Regions from separate parts of the Homo sapiens genome. Here region 2 is linked to region 1. Evidence: fine-mapped expression QTL. A gene starts in region 1. The other region holds a variant in brackets. All regions are shown on one strand. Distances are from middle to middle.

Region 1 (5,389 bases):
TACATAATACTTGATAATAAACTATGTGCCAGTTTATGTATTTGCTATCCTATACTTTTTATCTTTAGAGTGTACTCATCCACTTATTTAAAAATTTAAAAATTAGCTGTAAAACAGTTTCAGGCAGGTCCTTCAGGAGGTATTCCAGAAGGCACTGTTATCATAAGAGATGACAGTTCCCTATGTGTTACTGCCTCTAAAGACATTCCACCGGGACCTTCCTGACTCTGTGTAGGCCTAGAGTAATGTGTGTGTTTGCGTCTTCGTTTTTAAAGATTAAAATTTTTTGAAATAGAAAAAAGCTAACAGAATAAGGATATAAAGAAAATATTTTTGTACAGCTAATTGTACAATGTGTTTGTATTTTAAGCTAAGTTTTATCACAAAGAAGTTAAAAACTTTTTTAAATTAAAAAGTTTATAACATAAAAGTTACATTACAGTAAGCTAAGGTTAATTTATTATTGGAGAAAGAAAAAATTTTTAATAAATTCAGTGTAGCCTAAGTGTACAGTGTTCAAAAAGTCTACAGTAGTGTACAATAATGTCCTAGGCCTTCACACTCACTCACTACTCACTGCCTCACCCACAGCAACTTCCAGTCCTGCAAACTCCATCCATGGTAAGTGCCCCACACAGGTTCACATTTTTCAATCTTTTAAACTGTATTTTTACTGTACCTTTTCTATGTTTAGATATACAAATACTTGGCCATTGTGTTACAACCACCTACAGTATTCAGTACAGTAACATGCTGTGCTGGTTTATAGCCTAGCAGCAACAGGCCATCCCACATAGTCTAGGTGTGTAGCAGACTACACCATCTAGGTTTGTGTAAGTACACTATGATGCATGCACAATGACAAAATTTGCCTAACCACACATTTCTCAGAACATATCCCCTAACTGTCCCATGACTGTAACAGGAAGAATGAGGCTTGCAATTACAGTTGCAGAGGAGATAGGGAACTGGGGGTTACTGGTCCTTTGCAGAAAGGGAGAGAGACACAAGTACTCCATCACTGGAGTCACTGGATTTAGTGATATAGTGATACCCCAGCCCCTTCCAGGTTTGGAGCCAATAAATCCCTTTTAGCTTAAGCCCATTTGAATTTTCTGTCACTTGCAACAGAAATATCTTTGACTAAAAAAGTATAATTGCTATTACAGTAAACCTAAGAAATTCATAACAGTGAAAAATCCAACGCAAAGCTATATTTCCTTGCTAAAACACAGAACACATTTAATAATGTCATACAGCGTGAAGATAAGTCAAATATTCATTCAAGATTCAGTTAAGAATACAACAGTTTGATCTTACCACTATGTACCGATGACACCTACAGCTGTGGATCAAGAGAACATACGATCTAAACTCTATGAAAGCTATCAATAGATCCAAAGTTAAACATACTTCATTAAATTCAAAAGATCTTACTTCTCATTCACATACATAACTGACATTTTGTGTCACACTGGTTGAAATGTCAATGGAATAGTGAGATACAGCTAAGAATCACCAACATGTCCCAATATTCTGGAAGACAGAAAACATCCATCTGCTGACAATGGTCCAGATACGAAGCAAATATATTAAATATAAAGAAAAAATCAACATATTACTCTGTTAGAGCTCTGGAAAGAATTTTCTCACAAATGCCTCTTTGACCATATAAAGCCCAGTAGTTCAACGAATTTTTTTTCCATTTATCTTTATTGCATATTCTATGGAACAGGCCAGCTATTGCCAGAGGATTCAATACCTATTCTGTGCTTAAATTTAACCATGAGCAAACCCACGTCTTACACAAACATATGCAGATTCTCCATCCACATTTATATTAGATATACCTCAAACCCACACAGGCAGACATAGACATACACAGACAATTAACATGTAATTGTCTCCCAAATGCAGACATTTGGAGTAAGGTTTAGCACCACAAGCTAACATCCATGCTTGTTTTGCTTGGGTTTTGGGGTTTTTCAGTAGGGGAAAGTAGAGTATGGTAGAGGGTGGATGGTGCAGAGGCCAGAAGCCTTCCTATTCATTCTAACAAGAATCTAAGAAGTGGAGGGGGCCTGCTTATTTAAAGAAGGCTCCCCAGCTAGCTATTCCTGATAACCCACGGCCATGGAACCTCTCACCGATCCTACCTCCTCCCACCCTATCCTCCTGTAAAGCACCCCCATTTTGTACACCCAGACACTCTGAGCAGCTGTTTCCCTCCTTCCCCAGATGCCAAGCACAAAGAACTGGCCAAGGCACAGGAGTAGCCTCGAACTTCAGAGGCCCACCTTTCACCCTGCTGCCCTCACTCTGGTGCACAACTTGCACGCGGAGACAAACTGGAACCAGCCTCACAGGGTGCGCACCGATCCTAAGAGGTGGACACCCCATCTAAGCCTCAGGCTCAGGCACCTTGATATCAGTCCCTGGAGGCTAAAGGGGTCCACACCTGTTTCCCAGGCCCGACAGACCGGCTACACACCTGTTCCGCCCGGGAGTGGGGAGGGGCATGACACCCGCCGCCTAGGCTCACAGTCGGGGGAGCGGGCGCGCCAGTCCCTCAGCCTAATTGCCGCACGACTGTAACAGGACAGAATGAGGCTTGCAATTATAGTCGCAAAGTAGATAGGGAACTGAGGGGTTACTGGCCCTTTGCAGAAAGGGAGAGATACACAAATACATCACCGGAGTCACTGGATTTAGTGATACCTCAGCCCCTTCCAGGTTTGGAGCCAATAAATCCCTTTTTACTTAAGCCCATTTGAATTTTCACATTCATTTGGAACCAGTAAGTGGAAATTGCCCGACCCAGTTCCGGGCCAACGTACGACACGCCCCTCCACTCGAGAATCAACCCCGCCCGGCCCGTGGCTCGGGTCCGGTTAGCCCGTCAGGGGCTGCTCTGTTCGCTCCCCGAGGTCCCGCCGCTGTCGCGCGGGGAGGAGACGCCGAGGCTCAGAGACCTGTCGCGCGCTCTCCTCCTACCCTGAATACGGCCCCTCAATCCTGTCTCCTTCCACGGGCCCGCTCTCTGGAAACTCGTTACCTGAGCTTGCTGCCATTCCGGCCGTGGACCGCCGGCCCACGTGACCGCACCCACTGCTCTAGCCTCACGCACGCGCACTACCTACCACTGCGGGCAGCGCTTCCGCTTTCCTCCTCGCACTGCTCCCCCTCCTGGGCGGTCCGCGCCTCTTCACCACGCCCCTATTTAAAGGGCCAGAGATACGCCGTCTTCCCCCCTACGGAAAAAATGGGTGATTCACATCTTGAGGACCAAGAGAATGGAAACGTCGAAAGAGTAGCGCAGACAAATAAATAACAGTCCTTGAGGTGAGAGGAGAAAGCTCCTCCTTTAAGAAAGTGAACTTACTTGCAGCCAGCCCAGAAGGGAAGTTGATTCCCTGCCTTTTGGAGTTTGCAACCAGTAAATTTTTTTTAACTTTTTTTTTTTTTTAAAAGATGAACTCAGAATTGCCTATTTATTGTGTCAAATAAGTACAATAGGCACACACATACTAAAATACCAACTATTATCTTGTAATATATCATCAGTGTTGCTCCCCAAAATACATCTTAACACCAAAAATACAGGAGAAACATAGTCTCAAATAAAGGAAACATCTGAAAAATGAACAAAAACGTATGCTTATTTCTCTTATCGCTCCTGAAGAAAGGTGAAAGCTTTCAGAACAGACTGGTTTCTAGAGTCATCACTGTACGTAACATTAGCCCCAGGACACAGATTTTAGGCCTGCTGGGGGCTATATAGGTCAAGAAAACAGGAGGAAGAACACCAGAAGATACTCTTGGAAGGAGATACAGAAAATATTCGGTTGGGCAGACATTTTTGAGCATCAGCTAGGTTCACTAGACTTCTGGGCCTTCAGAAGACCCGAAGGTGTTGCCCTGTCCTCCAGGTATTTATTTTCTAAGAATTCAGTGTACAGACATAACAAAATACAAGGCAGGCTGTTTTGAGTAATATAAAGAAAGACATTGAACCACCATTTTCGCACAGACAGGGGGAAAGGGTGAAACACTCAAGGAAGGATGTGGTATCTTGTCAGGGCCTTGAAGGATTTCAGTAGCAGAGAGCAGGGAGAATGCCTAGCTGAGGGAAGGGTGGGATCAAAGGCAGTACAAAGCAAGTTTGGGAACTAGTTATTGGCCTGATGTAGCCGTGGTGTGGCCAGTGGCTTTCAACCTTCTTTTAATCATCCCTCACAGTAAGAAATACATTTCAGGCCAGGTGCGGTGACTCATGCCTGCAATCCCAGCACTTTGGGAGGCTGAGGCAGGTGGTCAGGAGTTCAAGACCAGCCTGACCAACATGGAGAAACCCTGTCTCTACTAAAAATACAAAAATTAGCCAGGTGTGGTGGCATGCACCTGTGGTCCCAGCTACTCGGGAGGCTGAGGCAGGAGAATTGCTTGAACCCAGGAGGCAGAGGTTGCAGCAGTGAGCCAAGATTGTGCCATTGCACTCCAGCCTGGGTAACAGAGTGAGACTCCGTCTCAAAAAAAAAAAAAGATACATTTCAGCCATGGCCTAGTATAAAAACACACACAGTATGCGCATATGTGTGAGTGTGCATTATAGATAGATAGATAGATAGATAGATAGATAGATAGATATGCTGAAACAGTAATTGCCCTTAGAGTGTACAATGCAACTTGGTATTTTCTATTCTATTCTCTTTTTTTAAGTGCTGGTTACTGAATTCATTTCAGTACTCAGTGATGCAGAGCAACCCATAGTTTGAAGACACTGGTGTAGTGTGTATTAGAGATGTGGTGGGCTATGAGGCTGGAAAGGCTAGGACCAGATCCAGGAAGACATTGCACGCTAAGCTGGGGTGTTCTGCTCTTCTGGTGAGAGTCTCCAGAGGAACTCGAGCAGAGGAGTGGCAAGATGATAGCTGTGCTTTAGAAGGCTGGAAACCGGCCTTTGGTTCTGAATATCACATTTTTCTAGTAAAGCTATTAAACTAGAGACTGTCTACAGAAGGATAAGCAAGCTGGTGAGACCAGAAAGCCTGTGTGACAGAGAACTTTTGAAAGTATCCAGAGGAAAAGAAATTAGCAGAAGTAGGGGAGAGCAGGGTCATAGGGGTGAGCAGTGGAAAGGTAGCTATTAGGTTGGTACACAAGTAATTGCGGTTTTTGCCATTACTTTAAAAAACTGACCCTTTTGAAATATCTCTGCAACACTCATAGACTTATTCTGAATAGCTGTAGAAAGAAAGCAAGCCTACGACCTGTGTATGGACGTTGCAGAGAGGCAGATTTCAACTTATAATAAAGAATATTTTAGGATGGTCCAGACTGACTCTGAGACCTCTCCAAAGTAACAGCCCTTTTATGTACCTCTGTTCAC
Region 2 (5,389 bases), 130 kb before region 1:
CCTCTACCCACATTCCTTTCTTCCCTCCCACTCCCAACTCCAATTCTAAAATCTTTCCATCAGTTAATTCTGGGAGTAGAAAAGGGCCCGAACTGACTCTGAGGGAAATACACATGATTAATAGGAATTTAAAAAAAAAAAAAAAAAAAGGATGTCTACCCTCAGTAATAATCTGAGGACAGAGAATTAAAATACAGATACTTTGAAAAGGTCTTGAACACAAGTGGAGGGGGCTTTGTAATCAGTCTGCTTTTAGTAAACATCTACACATACATATTCGTTTGACTAAATTTAAATGTACCACAGCCTATTCAAGATTTAAATGGTTGAGCTTTCAAAAAAATTTTACAACCAACAAAATTACTGGTATTTTGGTATTTTAAAATCTCACAGAACACGGAAATAACCAAAGCTGATATTACAATTGCTAACGTAAGTAAATAGTTGTTTTCAATGGCCAGCATATATTATAATGAAACCTAAAGTTTGTATGTCTGATATGAAAGCTATGTCATCTTGGAAAATTACACGTAAACCATGCTTAACTCTAGGTGTGCATCAAAATATTCCAACTCCCAGTGATTCTGTGGGTTGGGACAAGCCATCTGAATTTTTAAAAGCTTCGTAGGTGATTCTGATGCACACTACTAGTCAAGAGTAGCTATCTTAGAGGATATTAAATATTACTGCCCTCAACTCCCAATGTACTCTATGTAGTTACAGCAAAACTTTAAAACCTCATATGCAGCACTGCTTTGCCTACAAATCCATTATTAATTTCATCATCTCCTTGAGTTTGCTTTTATTTGATATAAACATCAGAGTAGCTGTTGAAAAAACACATTTAAACTTTCCTTCCCACACCATCAGGAAGTTGTTTAAAACTAAACATATTAAGTCAGAGTTTAAAAGGTAATACATTTAGAGGTGGGCTGGGAACCAAGTGTTAACTTTGGAAAGTAGAGCCACCATCAATCACCCACATGAAGTTAGGAGTAGGCAAGAGTGAAACAAGGGCAGGAGGGGGAAGCTAACTCTTCTGAAACATGTCCTTGTGGCATGGCTTCATTATTTTATTTACACCCATGAGAACTCACCATATATGCTCATGTTCAAATGGAAAGAAAAGTATTATCTCAAGATATAATCTATCGTTCAGATCTTCTATTTTCACATTATCTGTGTAACAGTTGCTCCTACTAATATAAAAAATTAAGAGCTAATTGTATTATTTAGATACCATGGGCTGGTAACTTTATTTATTTCCTTTTATTTCTCATATATATATATATATATAATGAAAGACTAAAGTTTGTCAACATACCTTGGGTCAAGAAGACTCCTCAAAAATTTGAAAAGCAAAACCTGGTTCTGAACAGAAAAACAATAAAAATTACAATTAAATATTAAAACAAATTTTTCAAATATTCCATGGTAAAGAACTACTTTAACCTATCCCTTTATGCACAGATATCTGAGTATTTCCACAAAGCCCTCTGTACAGATCTAAGAAATTCTAAAGAATCATCTGGAGGTTATGTCTTCTCAATAATTCTAATCACTGTCGCACATTCACTTCTCAGTGTAAACGGAACACAAACACCCTATTATCGCCCAAAACAGACCTCTACTGAGACAAATCCTCGAGCTGTTCCCAGCACAAGGACCCTCGGAGTGGCAGGTGCTTGGAACTGCTCTGTGGATGCTGAGCTCTGGATGCACTGATCAGTTTCACCTTGCCTTAACCTGGTCCTCCTGTGGCAATGGGTTGCTGTGAGATAGTTCATCCAGGGAGGGTGGGAGTTTGAGGTCCAAGTTAACAACCACCACCAAAAAAGTTCATGAATATCAACAACTACAGAAGAGATGCCAATCAAACTGCAACATGTTAGCAATCAACATGCCATAAAATCTGGGTTCTGTTTTTGCCATTTACTCACTTACGTGACTTTCTGTAAGTTACTTATCCTCTGAGCAATTCAATTTCCTTATGTGGAAAAAAAAAAAAAAAAAGAGGACAGCAATATCTTCTCTGCCTTCCACATTGGGTAGTAGTGAGGGTTAAATGAGATAAACCTTCAAATACTACAAAAATATGAATATTTCTAAATTCTTGGGAAACCTATGCAAAAATTGTTATTGTTTAGTTTTTCTTTGTTTTTTTATTTTTTGACAAATTCACACTTTATCTGTAAAAAATGGGGGACTCTTAAAGATGAAAAAGATTAATATAAAATATGATTTAAAAATATATTTATTTTTATCAGTCTGATTTTCTATTTTTTCACTATCACTTTGTGTTATTTTACATGACTTTCTTCTCAGTTATAACATAACATTCTGGCAATTTTTCATTTTAAGAATTCTGAAAACAATTGGTCAGAGGCATATTTCTTGCCATCAAAAGTAAAGGTACTTTGTAAGATCTATGTGGGATTCTTGCACAATTTATAAAGCTATGCAATAAAGTAAATACTTCATTTCTTTAAAAGAAATGTCTAAGACTCCACAAACAGACCTTTTTTTTTTTTTTTTTTTGAGACAGGGTCTCACTCTGTCACCCAGGCTGGAGTGCACTGACATGATCACAGCTCACTGCGGCCTCAACCTCCTGGGTTCAGGTGATCATCCCACCTCAGCCTCCCGTACAGCTGGGACAAAAGGCACCCACCACCATGTCCAGCTAATTTTCTGGATTTTTTTGTAGAGATGGGGTTTCACCATGTTGCCCAGGCTGGTCTTGAGCTCCTGAGCTCAAGCGATCTGCCCGCCTGGGCCTTGCAAAATGCTAGGATTATAGGTGTGAGCCACTGTGCCCCGCCCATACTTTACTTTTATATATTTGTCTGATGAATGACATTATATTCACCTACTGGGCCTGTCTCTTAATATCCGTAGAGACTACAAAAAAAAAAAAA[G/AG]AAAAAAAGAAAAGAAAAGAAAATCCTACAAGTGATCATTTTAAATCTTAAAGGACAATGACAACACAGCCACCACCACAGGCAAAATTTACCAGAAGTGCTGACTTTTAAAGGGGAGAGAAGCTCTGGAGGTTGAGAGTAGTTTTGGTAGAAACCTCCTCCTACCCTCCCTCACTAGACTGGATTTCATGTCCTTCCGTGTACTACTTCAGTATCCTGGGCTCCATTAGCATTCCAATCAAGCTAGTCTGTAATTGTCTTTTGGCTTATTTGTCTTCTTCCTAGAGAGCAGGATCACACTTACATGTTTTTGTATCCTCAGCACTTAATGTTTTTGGCCCAGAGCAGGTATTTATTGAATTAATCGGTGAGTCTTTTTCTTGAGTTAATGGACCTCATCATTATCATGCTGGACAACCAAGCCTGATATCTGGGAGTTGTTTTTAACTCCTCCCATCACATTCAACTGATTTCCAGATCCTATACATTTTACTTCACAAAAATGTCCTAAATCTGTCCTCTCCAACTGCCACTGACTTAGTGCTAGTCCTCTCCATCTTTTGCCTAGACCTTCTTCTCTCTCCTCCATTTGCTCTCCTTTCCAGTCCATTCTCCCCACTGCTATCCGAAGTTCATTTTCTGTAAAATGGATCTAATGATACTGCTCTTTAGCTTTAAAGAACTTCAATAATTCTCAGTACACAGAAGACAGTTTAAATTTCATAGCATCACATGTGAAACCGTTTCGTATTTGTCTCCAAGCTGTATTTTGCAACCCCTCTAGTTTAGCTCCTCCCCTCCAGCCTATCACTAGTAGCTTAACCTAATGCCACTTCCACCATCACCCCCTGCTGACGTCATGCTTCACACAGACCTGACTGTTCTCTGAACATGCATGCTGCTTTATGCCTTCAAGGCTTTTATACCCAGAACCTTTTTATTAAGAAAGCCCTGCCCAAGTCTCTGCTTGGAAATCTGACATTAGGCATTCAAGACCAGATTAGGGATCTCTGGGCATTCTTGTCTTTCTCGCAATCCATCACCCTCTTCTCTTGTTCCTACAGTACTTTTCACATATCTCTAGTGTAGCTCTTTCAACACTGGACTATAATTATGCAAGTGCTTCTCTGTTCTAGAGGAAAAATTTAAGAAAAGGTTGTATTCTTATTTCTGTCCCTAGGGCCTAGCACACTGGTAGAGAGTAGAGCAGCACTAAGTGTTCGAATGAATGAATTCCATATTTTTGTCTCTCATGCCAGCTACCTCCTACTCACTGCTCTGATTTCCTTCTTGCACAGCTATTCCCAACCACTATTAATGTCACTTGAGGACTCTGGGTGGTGCTTCATGTCCCTGTCATTGTCCTATTCCCTGCCTCTATCACTTGTGGCTACAATGACAGGGAGCAAACTCAACATCAGCACGGCCATGGTAAGTGGTAAGTGGAATACCTTAAACAGTCCATTCAATAGTACTTCTAACTGAGCTTCTCAATATTTACCATGCATATAGCTGTATTCCAGTTAAGATTTTCCAAGAAACATTCTAAACAGCACAATTTCAGGATGACAAAGTTTTGAATAAATATGAATCTCAAAGAAAACAGGGTTGTGGCCCAGATGTGGTGGCTCACGCCTGTAATCCCAGCACCTTGGGAGGCCGAGGCAGGCGGATCATGAGGTCAGGAGATCAAGACCAACCTGGTAACATGGTGAAACCCTGTCTCTACTAAAAACACAAAAAAATTAGCCAGGCATGGTGGCAGGCATCTGTAGTCCCAGCTACTCAGGAGGCTGAGGCAGGAGAATGGCTTGAACCCGGGAGGCGGAGCTCGCAATGAGTGGAGATCACACCACTGCACTCCAGCCTGGGTGACAGAGCGAGACTCCATCTCAAAAAAAAAAAAAGAAAACGGGGTTGTGGATCCTACAGCAAAAGAAAATGGGAGAAGGGAGGATCTGTGGATTAGGATTTCTAGGATAAGTACATTATAGTTCCAGAAATGCTTCTTTGAAGCTCATATTTGTATGCACAAAGATGAACTCCCTCATTTCCAAACTAAGAGATCATCATACAACTGCTCCCAACCACACACACACACACACACACACACACACACACACACACACACACAGTATTAGGTTGGTGCCATTAAAGAAATGGCAAAAACCACAATCACTTTTGCACCAACCTAATAGAAACTGCTAATAAATGTCAACTGAAGAAATCACTACAATCAAAACTTCTTAGGTGACGATTTAATAATTGTCTTTCCACTAGATATTTTTCCCCAATATATATTTGCAATATGTACCTGAAGTTTTTTAATGACCGTTTCAATATGTCCAGAAAAGTGGGTGGCAACCAGCTCCGCAGCTTTACAAGGCTTCAGGGACACGAGTTCCTGGAGTTAAAGGAAAAGACAAAGCCATCTCTAATGGCTCATTTAAACAGCATATCCACAGATGTGA

Direction of the effects. Positions count from the first base shown, and alleles are read on the strand shown. Sizes are in standard deviations (SD) of each study's normalised expression.
With allele AG in place of G in region 2, the expression in subcutaneous fat of the gene that starts at base 3,115 in region 1 is higher (large effect, 0.92 SD a copy in TwinsUK).

What was found. PIP is the estimated chance that this variant, and not a neighbour inherited with it, causes the effect.
Region 2: its variant is the best candidate, but not a certain one, in a credible set for the expression of VPS8 in subcutaneous fat (TwinsUK, PIP 0.85).

What each region holds. Positions count from the first base shown.
Region 1 is chr3:184,809,892-184,815,280 of GRCh38, reverse strand. VPS8 (VPS8 subunit of CORVET complex) reads right to left here and starts at 3,115. Exons shown (of 48, transcript NM_001009921.3): 1 at 3,056-3,115. RefSeq lists silencers at 805-854, 865-954 and enhancers at 2,988-3,187, 3,248-3,297.
Region 2 is chr3:184,936,179-184,941,567 of GRCh38, reverse strand. It overlaps VPS8 (VPS8 subunit of CORVET complex), which reads right to left. Exons shown (of 48, transcript NM_001009921.3): 35 at 5,233-5,322; 36 at 1,325-1,371. Among named protein-coding and RNA genes, the nearest start is that of VPS8, 130 kb to the right of the region's middle. The variant G/AG (reference allele first, on the strand shown) is at 2,919.